2 separate regions of the Homo sapiens genome follow, and region 1 is linked to region 2. Evidence: fine-mapped QTL for protein levels in blood plasma. A gene starts in region 2. The other region holds a variant in brackets. All regions are shown on one strand. Distances are between the middles of the regions. Region 1 overlaps ADAM23 (ADAM metallopeptidase domain 23). Region 2 holds the start of ADAM23 (ADAM metallopeptidase domain 23).

What was found. PIP is the posterior inclusion probability: the model's chance that the variant is causal. Protein levels are from antibody-based Olink assays in UK Biobank. Linkage for the fine-mapping came from a reference panel and not from the study's own genotypes, which makes the PIPs less certain.
Region 1: its variant is fine-mapped to the plasma level of the ADAM23 protein (UK Biobank, PIP above 0.99).

The regions. Positions count from the first base shown.
Region 1 is chr2:206,471,194-206,479,664 of GRCh38, forward strand. The region is part of intron 2 of ADAM23 (ADAM metallopeptidase domain 23); the gene reads left to right. Among named protein-coding and RNA genes, the nearest start is that of ADAM23, 32 kb to the left of the region's middle. The variant T/C (reference allele first, on the strand shown) is at 4,222.
Region 2 is chr2:206,438,930-206,447,400 of GRCh38, forward strand. It overlaps ADAM23 (ADAM metallopeptidase domain 23), which reads left to right and starts at 4,603. Exons shown (of 26, transcript NM_003812.4): 1 at 4,603-5,151; 2 at 6,378-6,595. The coding sequence starts at 4,938. RefSeq lists a silencer at 5,048-5,177.

The DNA.
Region 1 (8,471 bases), 32 kb after region 2:
ATATTTGAATCTACTCTATATCATTTATGGTTTGCTAGGTAGAACAATGCTAAAATGAACTGTATAATTACTGTACCATAATTTTCATTTTGTATTTCAGAATTTCTCATTCTTAACGAATCCTTGTGTAGTCATCATAAAGACTCAAGTTAAAGAACCTTCTATTGCCTTGGATTGATATTTGCATTGACATGAGTCCACTGGATTGTTATAGTCAAAATTCCAAGGACCAGAGTAGGCAGACTAGGGAAGTAGGACTCCTTAAGGAGGGTTGCCTCACATGAGGCTTTTTTTTTCTTTTAGAATAGTATTCACATTATATAAGCAAATTTAAAAAACTGCCATGTAATGAGTCACAGACACTAAGCATGGTGCTTGGTGTCTTGCTTTCCAAAACTTATATTTTATTTCCATTCTTTTATTTAAATTATTTAGTGGGTGTTCAATAATTCTGGCTAGAAAGACAAAATATGTTCTTGCTTTATGACACAAGTGTTAGCAGAGAGAGAAGTGTTCCTTGGAGTTGTGCAGTTTGGTGATGTAGGAATTGACGAGGAAAAAGAACAAGGTGAATCACACCTCAGCTACTAGATTAATGCACCACATTAAATGTTACTATTCAGGAAGGCAGTTACCAAGAAGCTTCCATGGTAACTGTTGTCATAGTTGTATTTTTACTCATCTTTCAAAAAATATATGAAAGTGAAATAATACTGCTGTAGTGATACTTGTGCTGCTTTACCCATTTTAAATAGCAAGTGCTCCAAAGGCTTGTAATTCAGTCTTTCTCCTTAGTTGGCATTGCCAGTTTAATATCCAGCAAACATTAATCACTAACAGTAAATGTATAGAAGACGTTTCATATACATGTCCAAGGATGCTTTGTCAGTGAAAGTGTATTGTTACAGAGTCCTCCAGGGTTGCTAAATAATCACTAGGGAAAATCTTAGTTTGACCTCCCCCATACCCACCATAAGATTAAATGTAGCTTCTCTTCTTTGGCTGGCCATGAAGAATTTTAAAAAGAAATATTTAGTGTGGCTAATGTGATTGACTGGAATATGTATTTGGATTATCAGTGCCTACTTCCTCTTTCTCTTCAGCGTCCATCTTTTGCATATTTAAGAGTACTTCGGCTGGGCGAAGTGGCTCATGCCTGTAATCCCAGTACCTTGGGAGGCCGAGGTGGGTGGATCACTTGAGGTCAGGAGTTCAAGACTAGCCTGGCCAATATGGTGAAACCCTGTCTTTACTAAAAAAAAAACAAAAATTAGCTGGGTGTATTGGCGCACACCTGTAGTCCCAGCTACTTGGGAGGCTGAGGCACGAGAATTGCTTGAACCCAGGAGGCGGAGGTTGTGGTGCTGAGATCATGTCACTGTGCTCCAGCCTGGATGACAAAGCGAGACTCCATCTCAGGGGAAAAAAAAAAAAAGAGTACCTCAAACTGAGGTACATAAGAAAAGAGAGGAAGATGAATTTGGAATCTCTTTAAAATTGATTTATTTAGAAAAGAGCTCTTGTATAAGATTTGGTCAGAAGTTAAAATTGACAAATCCATAAATCCAAGCTTTCCTTTTTTCTGTACCATCAGATCGCATAATCGAATATTGGCTAGATTTCTTTTAGAGTAGAAGTTCCATCTTTTTCGGCTAGGTTGGCACAGAGAACAAAGTCACACGGTGATCTGCTTCCTTTAAGTAGGAGATGTTCATCGTGGGTTGTGAGAAGAGTGTGCTTTGTTGATGCTTTGGTCTTGTTTCTGTAATAGCCTTCAAACGGTATGACTTAAGCTTCCTAATTTAAGGCCAAAAGATAGATTGATTAACATTTTCGGGCATGTATGTTTTCGGGCATTTTTCGGGCATGTATGTTTCCCCCCTACTTGTCATTCTTGTAAAATGCTTTATTTTATGATAAACTGTCATGTTTAACTCACACCACAATCCACATTGCAGTATAACACTCCAGAATGGAAGGCATCTTGTGTTTTACTTTAAAAGCATGTTTCTTAAGCATTTATTTGTTAGCAAATACTTATTAACACTTTATAATTTCATTCTATTAAATAAATCCTAGAAGAGCTGTCTGAATTCTTTCTTTAAATGCGGAGAAAGTCTTCCTCATAAGCCATTCTCAGCTCTCTCCAGCCCCCAGCAGACTCACTCCACAAATTCAAATGCGCTTGTTGCCCTTACTCCAAATTTGGTAATTAATCATGCTTATATTGTGTGTGGTATCTTTACAAATAATATTTATGCCAGGGGTAGTGGCTCACACCTGTAATCTCAGCATTTTGGGTGGCTAAGATGGGAGGATTGCTTGAGGAGGCCAGGAGTTCAAGACCAGCTGGGGCAACACAGTGAGACCCATCTCTAAAATAATAATAATAATAATAATAATAATAACAACAACAACAACAACAATAACGATTCTTATTTAATTGACATATTATATTTTTCACTCTTTTCAGTTACTCATTTGATTTCCTTAACCATATTATAATCTTTTTGATCTAAGTGTTAATTCTCGGCCAGGCATGGTAGCTCACACCTATAATCCCAGCACTTTTTGGGAGATCAAGGCGGGTGAATTGTTGAGCCTAGGAGTTTGTGACCAGCCTGGACAGCATGGTGCGACCCCATCTCTATGAAAAAATAAATAAAAATATTAGCTGAGAGCAGTGGCATGTACCTGTGGTCCCAGCTATTTGGGAGGCTGAGGTGGGAGGATTGCTTCAGCTAGGAGGTCAAGGCTGCAGTGAGTTGTGATTGCACCACTCCACACCAACTTGGGCAACAGAGTGAGACCCTGTCTCAAAAAAAAAAAAACAAAAAAAAAAAACCAGAAAAACAAAACTAACTCTCCTATACTAATCTGCTCTAGTATCTTACATAAGGTAGGTATTTAATACAAATTGTTGCTGGTTAGCCCATAATACTATCAATTGGAACATGGTAGAAGAAAACATGATAATATTTTTCTCCTTCAAACTACCTGTTTAAATGCATCATGGCAAGAATGTTCAGCAAATTACCCTAATTTGCAGAACCGCCTTCATGTAGCATTTGCAGCTGTTTCACTTCTGTGGAAAATGATTCATATTATTTTGAAGACATGACAACTTGAACAAGGTCAAAGCATAATACATAATGGTAATTAGCAATAAAAATACAAAATTTGCAAATTTTGCTGAGTGTAAATGCACATTGGAATTTGCTAGATGGTGGCTAACTATCCTGGGAGGGAACTTTAGGGTGGGGTTGATTGATACCCTTCCAAAATGTTACTGTATTCTTTTTTCTCTTTTTCCTACTTTACTGTCTCCTTCCTAAATGACTGAGCTTTTTCACTGTGGCTGAGCTACATTGGTCACATTATTATTATTGCTATTTTCTTTGAGAATGGGTCTCATTCTGTCACCCAGACTGAGTGCAGTGGCATGATCTTGGCTAACTGCAGCCTCAAACACCTGGGCTCAGGTGATTCTCCTGCCCCAGCCTCCTGAGTAGCTGGGACTAGAGGCATGCACCACCATGCCTGGCTAATTTTTGTATTTTTCATAGAGGCAGGGTTTCACCATGTTGCCCAGCCTGGTCTTGAACTCCTGGCTTCAAGCGATCCTCCTGCCTTAGCCTCTCAAAGTGTTGGGATTACAGGCATGAGCCACTGCGCCTGGCCGTCAGTTGCATTATTGTATTATTTAATCCTCGCACACATCATGTTGTTAAGCTATTATTATTTGTATTTTATTGACCGGAAAACATTGAGGCTTGCAGATGTAAGGACTTCTGGCATAAGTATGGCACTTTTTTGTCATTTAACTAAAACTAACACCTCATGTTTCTTCCTTTGATCTATGACCTTGGACAATAACATTAGTTAATCTCTCTCTGCCCTTTAAAAAAGTTTCTTTTCTATAAAAGGGTAATAAAAATGTCTGCTGTACCAATTGCATGGGGTGCTGTGTTCTAGATAGACATGACAGTACTTTGAGATGATTAAAATGTAAGAAATGTGAGGCATTATTATTTTTATCATAACACAAACCTGTGCAATCACCAGTGTATCAATTTAGAATGAGGGATTAGAACAAAATTACAATTAAAAATGGTCTGTTGATATTTTCTTTTGGACTTCAAAACTTTTAAGATATATTTACATATTTGGATTTTTGCATTATACAGAAAAAGATTCACAAGCTGGACTTTCATGTTTCTC[T/C]AGCTACAGGATAGGTCCAAACTAGTCCTCTTTAGAAAAACCTCTGTGATTGAAAAGAAGTGACTTCTTTTCCTCAAACTTATTTCAATTTAAAGTTGACATTTTATTCTCATTGATATTTAATTATCTGGGATGCTGGATTCTGTGCCTACTGTTTTCGTATGAAAAGAAAAACATACCAAACAGCCACGCTGATGAAAGTCTTCCTGGTGAAGTGGACTCTTGTTCTCAGCAGCTCAACCCATGATGACAAAGGCAGGGTCCCTCTAGCATCAAATTAGCGAATTTTCCTCCTCCCATCTTGTTAGTTGGTGAATTTTCAAATCTGCCTTCTCTGAAACATTATAAAATGTCCTGAATCTCAAAAAAAGGTGATGTTTTATATTCTATGACCTTTCTCCACCATATTTGAAGATAATGGAGTGGAAACTCTTGAAGGGTCTATTGAAAAACTGTAAAGGTAAGGAAAAGAACCGTATGCAACAAGATAAAGGAAATAAAATACTTCCTGAAAAGGTTATGGTTACACACACACACTCACACACCTGTCACATGTATACAGTGTAGCTGCTGTATTCAGTGTTTTAACAGACATAGAATAAACATTGTTTTTTCTATGTTAGAATAAACAGAGAAGACAGGCATCTGCTTACTGACTTTTGCGGTCTCTAATGCCCTCTTTCCTGAAGCCGAGACCTGTAGCCCTCTTCTTTACGAAGTTGAATGTGAATCATTCCACTGGTGTTTGCTTAGGCCTGCTTGATACCCTAAAGGGCTTCTTACCTCTGTTTGTAAAACATTTTCTTGTCTATTGATATTCCACTTTGGGCATGTTTCGTTCATTACTTAAATGAATATCTCCCTAAATAAACTGAATATATCTTAAGATCAGGAAACCACTTCCAAATTCTGTTATGTTTCTCACACCACCTATAGTTTAGAGCAGGGGTCCCCAACTTCCAGGTCACATTGATATCAGGCTGTGGCCGGTTAGGAACTGGGCCACACAGTAGGAGGTGAGTGGTGGGTGAGTGAGCATTACTGCCTGAGTTCCACCTCCTGTCAGATCAGCAGTGGCATTAGAGTCTCATAGGAGCATGACCCCTATTGTGAACTGCACGTGCGATGGATCTAGGTTGCATACTCCTTATGAGAATCTAATGCCTGATGATCTGAAGTGGAACAGTTTCATCCTGAAACCATCCCCCACTCCACCCCATCCGTGGAAAAATTATCTTCCGTGAAACTGGACCCTGGTGCCAAAAAGGTTGGGGACCACTGGTTTAGAGCATACTAAGGTGAAATATATGTCTCAGAAGATGTGATGATCCATAGTGTAGGCACTCAGTTACCCAAGTTGCTCAATTTCTACTAAATTTTACAATTTAGTAGAAATTCAGCCTTATGATATTTTTTGAATTCTGGGAAAATGTTATTTCCCATTTTCAGTTCCAGTTATGGGTACGCTCTACAGAACTCACAAATTCTTGCCAAGTAGTGAAGAATACTGTTTGAACACCTATTATGTGTGAAACATAGTTGCATGAAAACATGTATATCCTGCAAATGGCTGCCTTTTATTTTTATGATTAGATATAGAGTTATTTTTCTTCTTGTTTTTATGTCTATATTAGCTATTCTAGAATATAAGTCCCAAGAAAACACAATAGTATCTATTGAGCCTATTTAATGTACCCTACACAGAGTTGAGCATGTATGATTGCTTAATGTCATAACATTGCTTGATGATAAGGTGAGAAACAAGTCTTAGCCGAAGAACCCAATAGCTTTCTTAAAGTTATTTAATATACCATTAGATGCCATCCACTAGAAAGAAAAAATAAAAACAAAAGCACATTGCTAAGACGTGTAAACTGTTCTCCAGTGAAGGAGGTTTGTGTATATAATTGAGTTTAATTGTTTTTCTTTTCAGAGCTCCTGTAATTTCCCTGTGCCAGATTCTGAGTTAAAAGAAAAATACTAAAGTGGTTAGGCAGCAGCTGTTCTCAGTCCTTCAGGGTGGTAATTCTGAGCCCAGGGACATGCTCATTCTTGTTGTGAAATGATGTTCTTTGGCTATAAAACCCTGCATTCTTCCCCAGTGCTATTATAGTGAATGTCCTTATAAAAGCAAGGCTGTTTAACAGATATCCCGAAAGAGAAAATAACTGATTATGACCTAATATGTGGTTCATGAACTCTTCTCTGAAGCATTCCTAGGATCTGATTTTGTATTACTGAACACATTTCTAAACCTCACTGTATAGTTCCTTTGTAAAAGAAGAACAATACTGTAGGTAGTCTTTGTATTTTTAATGGATTTCAGTGATGCTGGTCAGTTCATTATCTCTAAAATCTGTTAAATCAACTAAAAATGATATGGCTGTATATTGTAAGACTTTGTACTCATCCCAGCCATTCTTCTAACTTTTCTACCATTTGGAAGAAGCAAGCCAATATTCTGTTAAAAAAAAAAAAAAAAAATATATATATATATATATATATATAAAACAACAATGTGGTTTATAAAATAATGACTCACTTTACATGATTTGAAAACATTTAAAATGGGCATATATAAAAACTGTGTAATATTTTGTTAAAGAAAAAGTGACAAATTGAAATGGACTGCATAGCATCCAGAAGTTAAACACTATTTTAATTGTGTCTAAGACAGGGCAGAAATAAAATGATAGGGAAAAGTAGCACTTGTCAGGTATTTATTTTGGTATAGAGAAGAATCTGTACTGTCTAAGCACTTGCAGAATGTATAGCAATGGAAAGAGAAACAGAATGTAAGCAAAATAACATACATCAATATATTTAAATGACTTAAAATGGATATAAATGTATTAGATGAAACTAATTCCATTTGATACATTGACAAAGAAGATGAATATGGTGAGGAAATCTTAAATCATTTTATAGAAAATGTGCTTCCTCTTAGAATTAAAATATTAAAACATTCTTACTGATAAAGGTAATAAAATCAGGTTTTTTTTTTCCTATGGATAAACAGATATCTTGTTGCTGGCATGATAAATTGCTTCAGTTCTGGAGAGTAATCTGTTAAGATGTTTGAATCATAATGATATGATGATGATGATGATGATGATGATGATGATGATGGCGTGTGCCAGAAATGGTGCTGAGTGAGTTTGAGGGAGTGGCCATTTAGGAGAAGGCTCATTGTCTTGGCCACATGTTCTTGTTTGCGATCATAAATGTCACTGATCATGTCACGTGAAGCCTGCCAGTCTCCATCCCACCTTTTCAGATTCATTGTTTGACATTTCATCTGAAAACCATTTTCCTACAGGCCATATTCATTTTTTAAAAAATTTAAAAAGCTTATTTTTCTCACATTCATTTTGACTCGATTTTTATAAATGTTTTCCTCCATGCCTTGAGTGTCTTTTCTTTCTCTGACACGTGGATTCTTATTCATCTTTTGAGTTGTTGTTCAAATAGCACCTTGTCAGTGGATCCTTTCTGCACCTCTCTGTGCCTGGATGGGGTTCAGCCATGGTCCCTGTGGCCCATTAGACAAGCTGAGGCTGACAGTTGTACCTGCCCCTCTGGAGACCATCACTTCTTAGAGGGCGGAAGCTGTGTCCCAGCTATCTTTATATGCAAAGCAGGACTTAATATGTTTGTGTGGAATGATTGAATGCAAAAGCAAAAGGAAAACCCAGTATGATTTACTAGCTCTTTGATTAAATTCTATTAAACTGAAGCTAGTCACATTGACTTGGTATAAACCTATTCTAGCAATTATCAAATTGTGTAACTCCTACAATTCTGTAAAATGAAGGTACTACATTTACCACCAGATTACCTTATTTTGCAAGAGTGTTGTCAGTGTTTGTACTTGTCACATCACTTATTTGCTATAAAATAAGCCTTTTACTGAGTCTCTGTCAAGTTCTTCTTAGTGTTTATAAAGATGTTCAAGGAGGTATATTTATCAGCTCTTTTAGACCAGGGTGCCACTAATGAACTCATCTCTACTGTATAATATTCTTAAGAGAAACTATACTTAAGGATTTATCTTATTCTTAGGAAGTAAATTTTACATACTTAAAGCTTTTTTGATCTAGAGCTGAAAAATCTCTCCTTGTACAAATTATTCATCAATATAAATATCTTTATGCAAAAATTAATGCTTCAAGGTACAGAATGAATTTGAAGACTAGTGGATATTTGTATTGAATAGAGGTTCTGTTGTGGATAACAGAGACCACACTTGA
Region 2 (8,471 bases):
GAAATTGTCCCACTTTGTCCTGGTCTTCAGAATGAGCAGTGGTGTAATTAACACAGACCTGCAGACTTGCAGACTAATTTTCATGAACTTGAAGGTTGCCTGTGACATGGGGTGTGGCTCTGTGTCAGGAGTGTGTATCCCCTGCCGCATGGCCGCTCTACAGGATTGAGTTTGAGGAACACAGGCAGATCCCAGATGGTGACAGGCTCTGGGAAGGACTAGAGTGCATGTATTACTCCATTCTCTGACCACTCATGGCTGTAGCATCCATTCAGCATCCCCTACTCACAAGAAAGTATAGCTTGGAAAAACAAAAGAAATGTCTAGAATCTTTTTGACATCTGTATTTTTTTTTTTGGTGAATGATTTCTGACTTTTCTCCCATTATCATCATCTGAGAATTGGCTTCAAAAGGAGAAATACTTCTTTCCTAAGGGATCCCTTCAAATGATGAACATCTTTTGAGAATTTAGTGACTACTTACTGATTAAACAACTATCTAAATTACAATGGAGAGCAATCTTTTCTAGAATTAGAGCCCTCTATATTGTGGCACACGCTTCCTTCGCTTTTTCTGCTTATATGCACAGGACATAATACAGTTGATGAAAAAAATTTAACCTTACATATATATATATTTAAGGTGTATATATATAGTATATATTATAAGGTATATATATTTAAGGTAAATATATATATATATATATATATATATAGAGAGAGAGAGAGAGAGAGAGAGAGAGAGAGAGAGATTTAAAAATGGCTAGCTGACAAACCAGGTCCTGTAGGCTGCATGGTTTTCACATTCTTAGAGGTTTGTAAAGAAAAAAAAATGCAGCAGAGACCATATGGCCCACAAAACCCAAAATGTTTATTATCTGGCCTTGTACAGAAAATGTTTGCTGACTCCTGAACCACGTGGCAAGTACCAATAACGAAGCACACTCGCTTTTTACTTTCATGAAGAAATGCATTGTCTTTTCTCCTTTGAAGTATCCACTTCCGCTGGTAAAATCAGTCTTCACAGCTATTCTAAAAGGAGGCTGAGAAACCTTCTCTAGCTGGCTCTGTAACACAGGCTGTCCCAGCGAGCTCCTGGGTATAAGCTGCTCTTGAGCCAGAGCTGCTGTTTGAGGCTTGTTCATGCTCTTGCTTTCACTCCCTAGATCTCTCTTAGTATCAGCACCATCCACTAATTTGCTGCACACCTTCTTTGACCTTGACTTTTTGGGCAAATGCTTATTCCATTCCAATTGCTCTTGTAAGTCTGCTTTGCTACCTTCCCCTGCTTTTTTACTTATTTTACCCTCTGGACCTCTCTTCTGTCATCCCCTTCTTCTACTTTCTCCCCTAGCATCTCAGCCCTCTTGAGGCCAAGGCCTGCTACATCTAATATTTCTATTTCTGTCCTTTGCTTGCTCCTGTCCAGACCCAGTCTTCTCACTGGTTGCAAAGTGGGTCCAGTTCTACCACTGGAAACAGATTTTGGCAAATAGAGACCTTCTGATCTCCTCCCTCACCAGACCAATGGACCATTTTTGTGAACAGTATGACGACCCTTCCTGGGTATTGCTCACATGCACCCCTCATGGTGCTTACCTAGGGTCCATATTGCCTGGTGTAATTTCCTTCCCATGGACCTTCTGGCCACCTGCCTTCACCTACGACTGCAGCATTTCTCCATGTCTGCCACTGTGACTAGATCACTCCAGTGATCCTCTGATGGCCTTAGGATCCAACACACATTGGTAACCAGGGCCATTATAGCACTCAAGCTTCTGGTATATTTCTTTATTCCAGTCCATCTTGCTGAATCCCTCTGTTTCCTACCTGTGAGTGCCCCTCTATGAATGCTGATTTGATTCCAGGTACTATACTAGGCTGTGGAGTCAGAGATGACCAAGATACAGCCTTGCTCTCAGTATTTTTTGATGGAAGAATGATGATATGCACATACACGAATACAGAGCAAAGCAGTAGGTGGCAAGTGATTAAGCAAGTCACTAAATCTTATGAAAGCACAGAGGGGAATATTTAGAAGTAAACTCTATAAAAATAAAAATTCTGAACTACCTAATAAGAATATTACTAACTCTACCAAGTTGACCAATTAAATTATTTAATCAGTTAATATTTGATTCTGTTTTTAACCTTCCCTTAAATATATGGCTTAAAGACTAAACTTCCAGTAAATTTTTTCTAAGTAATGTACTCTTTCTCTGACTCATTATTTCATTTATTGATATCTTATTTTGACTCTAGCAATGTCTGTAACCATTAAAGTTCTGTAAATAAATGCAGTCTTTTGACTATAGTACATAAGACAACATCCCTCTTTGTAAATACCCCAACCCCTTATTAGAAACTATATTGAGGCCAGGTGCGGTGGATCACGCCTGTAATCCCAGCACTTTGGGAAGCTGAGGTGGGTGGATCACCTGAGGTCAGGAGTTTGAGAACAGCCTGGCCAACATGGTGAAACCCCGTCTCTACTAAAACTACAAAAATTAGCCGGGTGTAGTGGCACGTGCCTGTAATCCCAGCTAATCCCAGCTACTTGGGAGGCTGAGGCAGGAGAATCGCTTGAACCTGGGAGGCAGAGGTTGCAGTGAGCTGAGATCGCACTACTGCATTCCAGCCTGGGTGACACAGCAAGACACCATCTCAAAAAAAAAAAAAAAAAAAGAAAAAAAGAAACTATATTGAATCCTCATTCCATACCCCAAGTGCATGAAATGATGTGTTGTAACTGGTGGGTGGGTTTGGTCAGTCCAGGTTGGCTGATAGGTTTATTTATCAGAACAGACTTTAAGAGGTTGTCACTGAATTGCAAGAGATGCCTTTCAAGTAACTTGCATCTGGGTGCTTTGCACCTTTCATTTCCCTCTCCCTTCTCATTGCTTGTACATCTCCTTTCTGGCTTGCTTTCTCTCAGGCCCTTTTTCAGGATGCATATTGTGTCAAATATAAATTTGGAAAACCTAGCCAGAGAATACTTGACTTGAGGGAGACAACCCTAAGAACATTGACCTGCAGTGGGCACTCCGGTGGGGCTAGAGTGTTCACTAGCCTGCCCCAAGTGTGACTTCTGCTTGTGTGTATCACCCATTTCTTTATTCATTTAGTACATATTTTCCAAGCGATTTCTCTGTGCCTCAGACACTGTGTGAGGTCCTAGGGACACAATGGTGTGCAGAAGGGAAAACTGTTGTTGCCCTCACATGGGGGAGGTAGCAACAATTACAAATTTACAGGAATAAATATGTGATAATAATATCCTAGCTCAACATAGAAAGGAAGTTATCTCAGTATTTACCTAACAGTTTTGTAATGTGTGTGTGCGCGCGCGTATATGTCTTCTTCTTTTCTCTTTGTTAAGTGTGAGTGGAGAAGATGATGGCTAACACTGAGTTCTGTCATGGCCATGGCACTTTTATACCCACATTCTTTCTTTTAATCATGGAATTCTCCACCCCAGCCCTCACCCCGTGGATGTCGGAGTAAGACAACATTGTTATCACTCAGATTGTCATTGGGAGGGTGAATAAATGAATGCTTGCATTATGAGAGTTTGGGGGCAGAAATATGCCACAGACTCTTATCTGAAGCCATCAGATTTAGTGGCTGCGAACCCACCGAAGTCAGGGATTTACATTTTTTACAGCAACGAGAGAAAACTTCCCCTTTCCTCTGCAGAAGTCAGGACTGGATCTCAAAAATAGAAATGTGTCCTCCTAAATGTGTGCCCATCCCCGTGGTTGACAAACAACGGATTTCCCAAGATAGCTGCCACACACTTGGTTTCTAATCTCTGTATTGCTTCCCCGCCAGAATGTCGAAGTCCTTCCCGAATATGCCCAGTCATACTTTCTGAACTTTTGAGCAAACACCGTCCGGCTTCTTGTGCTTTCCTCAAAGACCCCAGGCACCGGCAGGGAGGACACAGGCCGGGGCAGAGCGCCCCTGCGCGGGGGATTCCTGCCACTCCGCGCCAGCCTGCGGCGCAAACGCTCTTCTCAGCCGCAGTCCCACCCGCTGCTGGCAATCTGAATGAGGAGCCGCGCTATTTTTACCTCCCCGGCTGCAATCCTTTATATTTACATGCAGGAAGCAAATATATAAGGGATTAAGAAGGAGATGCGTGGCCTTAGTTTATCCAGAGCAGGAAGAGGTTGGAATAGGAGAGGGTATGTGAAGTCTGGGGTGGTGGAAAAGGCAGGTGGACTTCGGCTGGTTGTTTTCTCCCGATCATCCCTGTCTCTGGCCTGGAAACCCCCGTACTCTCTTTCTTCTGGCTTATCCGTGACTGCCGGCTCCCCCTCCACCGCCCCCATCTTTTGAGGTACCACCCGTCACCTCCGATGCTGCTTGGGCTGCTGCATCACTCTGCTGCTTTACCCCCTTCCCCGCCCCCCAACAAAGCATGCGCAGTGCGTTCCGGGCCAGGCAACAGCAGCAGCACAGCATCCAGCAACAGCATCAGCACCCGAAGCCCCGCTCGGGCGCGCTCTCGGGGGGCGGGGCGCACGCCCGCTCCGCGCGTCCCCGCGCCGCTCGCTCCCGCGCGTCCCCGCGCCGCTCGCTCCCGCGCGCCGCCTCAGCATCCTCAGGCCCGGCGGCAGCCCCCGCAGTCGCTGAAGCGGCCGCGCCCGCCGGGGGAGGGAGTAGCCGCTGGGGAGGCTCCAAGTTGGCGGAGCGGCGAGGACCCCTGGACTCCTCTGCGTCCCGCCCCGGGAGTGGCTGCGAGGCTAGGCGAGCCGGGAAAGGGGGCGCCGCCCAGCCCCGAGCCCCGCGCCCCGTGCCCCGAGCCCGGAGCCCCCTGCCCGCCGCGGCACCATGCGCGCCGAGCCGGCGTGACCGGCTCCGCCCGCGGCCGCCCCGCAGCTAGCCCGGCGCTCTCGCCGGCCACACGGAGCGGCGCCCGGGAGCTATGAGCCATGAAGCCGCCCGGCAGCAGCTCGCGGCAGCCGCCCCTGGCGGGCTGCAGCCTTGCCGGCGCTTCCTGCGGCCCCCAACGCGGCCCCGCCGGCTCGGTGCCTGCCAGCGCCCCGGCCCGCACGCCGCCCTGCCGCCTGCTTCTCGTCCTTCTCCTGCTGCCTCCGCTCGCCGCCTCGTCCCGGCCCCGCGCCTGGGGGGCTGCTGCGCCCAGCGGTGGGTATGGCCCCGTGCCCTTTGCGTTGGCTTTCCCGCGGGGCCCTGCAGAGGAAAGCGAAGGGCGCGCGGGTCCGTGTGCTCCGGGCTTGTCCCCGGCTCGGCCTTTCCTTCCCTCCCTGCCTGTCTTTCCACCCTTCTCGTTCCCAAACCCCCATTCATCCCAGTTCACTTTTGGAAGTCCATTTCTGTTGCATTCGCGAAAAACCCATTCCAATTCTTGTTGGTTCCACTGGGAGGTGTTTAGTGGATCCTGGGTCCCTCAGCGATCTCTGTGCAACTTGCGGAGGGGCAACCAGTGGATGGGAAATACAGCGAGGGAGCAAGTTGCTACTTGCGTGGTGGAACCTTAATGTGAATGCGGGGAGGATGTAGTGATAATAGTGGTAATGGGCTGTTTCCTCAAATTTCGTATCCGGCGCATTCAGTGCGGTTGGAATTAAGGTGGGGGAGGCACACTTCGGGGACCAAAGAATTAAGGTGCTGAAGACATACTTCATGCACGACCTTTGGTTCTGATTTCTCAAAGTGCTTGTCATTATAATGAACAATTAATATAATACCATCTTCTATATATTGATGATTGGAAGTCACTGAAAGCAGAAAGCTGGCTTTGTCAGGAAAATAAAAAGAAATTGGGAAGCTGCCAGCATCTGTATCCCTACATGGCAAAGTATGTTTGCTCATCTTAAAGTTAAAAGAGAAGGGAATTGTCCATTTTGTTAAAAGAGTCGATTAATATTCGGTATCCATAAATTCAGTACTCAAGTTATCTTAGGAGCGTTCTTAGCTCTTGGATGGGATGCCACTAGGCAGAGTAGAGTTGTGCTTCTGTGGACTCAGAGAAGGGGTGGAGATCGGGGGCAGGACCCCTGAACATGTTCATTTAATGACTCTTCTTCCCTCAAGTTCATTCTACCCCCCCCCCAACACTTAGAAGTATAGATTTGAGTCTGACTAGAAATGTATATATAAGACATAAATCAAAATAAATAGTGCACAGTTGTATAAGCCTTATTGGCTATTTATTAACTTCTCCAGGCCATTTTATTGTTGAAATAACTTGCTTTACTCTAGCTCTACTTCTTAACTGCTTATAAATAGAAAACTTTGTGTTTGAAATTAAAGGAAAAATGCATTTTAGTGCTTATGTATTTATGGGGTAAATATGTGTGTGTTTGTGTATGTTTGTATTTTCTGCTCCCCCACCCCCCTACCTCCACCAGCTCCGCATTGGAATGAAACTGCAGAAAAAAATTTGGGAGTCCTGGCAGATGAAGACAATACATTGCAACAGAATAGCAGCAGTAATATCAGTTACAGCAATGCAATGCAGAAAGAAATCACACTGCCTTCAAGACTCATATATTACATCAACCAAGACTCGGAAAGCCCTTATCACGTTCTTGACACAAAGGCAAGACACCAGCAAAAACATAATAAGGTAGGCAGGAGGCTGGCTATGCAAAAGTAACTATCATGAAGAGTTTTCCTTTGATTTGATTTTCTGCCAGAATCTGAGTTCACAAATTTTACTGCAGCATTTTATTAAGAAAGCAATTAATATTATGATAGGGGAGAAACTGGAAGGAATTAACTTGGGATCTACTGGGATAAGACTGTTGTTTCTCTTCTCTGACTAAACTGGAACTAGAATTTTCTGATACCTGAAATGATATCCATGTATCTTTCAGGTACATTGGGCACTGAACAGTAGTTAAGTGAATGTGTTTATGATTCTAACTTGTTTCTGTGAGGCTTTATGTAAGGGTGCAGTATTCTGCCTTGATATAAAACTGTCTCCCATGATATAAAAACTGCTTTCAATCTGCACATGCAAGATTGCTTCAAGAAGCTATTTGGCTGCAGTGTCTCCATCAGTCTTTCCACTTAGAAATTGAGTGTTTAAACAGTCTGTTTCTTTAATTGATCAGTAGGAGGAAAAAAAAATTTTCTGTTGTATTTTCAATAGGTAAACAATTTGACATTTAAAAAGATTATGGTGACTAGACACAAATTATTTGCATAATATGAAGACCAATTTTGATTGGCATAATTCTTCAGTACCTACTCTGCATTGATTATGAGCAGTTGCTTTACTTTCAGGTTAGTTCAGAAAGTGGAACTGATATTTACCAAGGTATCAGTAGAAGACAAATGTTTAATATCCAAAGAGTTTAAGGGATCTTTTTCCCTGTGTTACTATTCTTTACTTGAATTAATATTATTTTGAACCCCGAGCAGATTTAAACAATGGATTATCGGTTCTTCTGTTGTTTATCGGGAGCAGAAAATAGAGTCTGTATGTTAAATGTTTCATTTTGATCTGTACTTGTTCAGGTGAGAACAACAGTTAGCAATTAACTGTCTAAACATCTAGAATTTAAGAAAGTATCTGCAGTTTACATCATTGTTTTTTATTAGTTTTCTAAAATATAGGTGAGTGGTAACAGTATTTATCCCCATTTTACAAATGGGGAGCTAGAAATTTAAGGCTTTTGGGTGATTTTCCTATGTTGTAAAGCAGCTAATATAAAATTCAGGTGACCTGAATGTTTAATTTTTACTATTTTTTACAAGTTAGGTCTCTGAGAAAGTGCTTTCTTCACCTTGAATATTACTGGAGAGGTGAACTTTCTTTCACATTATTTTGAAGTGGCTGCTACCCACCGTGAGATAAATGTGTCTCTGTTCTCAGCCAGCCCTTTTCTCCATAAGCTCCTATATAACTTAATGGGGTGACTAATAGGTCATGTCTAACTCATTTGTCTTATTGATAGGAGAAATGGGTGTTGTCTTTAAAGAAGAGAAATCCAAGGCCCTTTTGATAAAATGCATTGAGGCTTTTATAGCTTTCCTTATGAATGAGACCTTTTAGAGTTAAGTGGTTAGTTCTCAAACTCCAGCACCTTTGCTTAGGATGCTGGAGGAAGGAAAAACAGCTGCCTCAAAGCCTGTTTCAAAGAATGCTCAAGCCCTCCTCAGCAGAGACTTGAAATTTCAGTGGCACTTTTTAATAACTCAGATGTTTGAGGCTATGACTAATGCTTGCCTTATAGTTTAACCTTATGTGGCTGTTTTCTTTGGTGGGACGTGGTTTGACTGTAATATACCTGACTTCCGTGATAATAAGGTTTGTTAAACCTGTACCCACCGCTTACCTAGAGGAATAGTTGGGTTTCTTTTATACTGTACTTTGAAAAGAATGTTTCTACAGAAATCGTATTTGAAAGCATTTTTCTTATTAGTTTAACTCTATAAACATTTGTTGCACCTTTCTCATATGCAAGCGGTATGCTAAGTATTCAAAGATAAGAGAT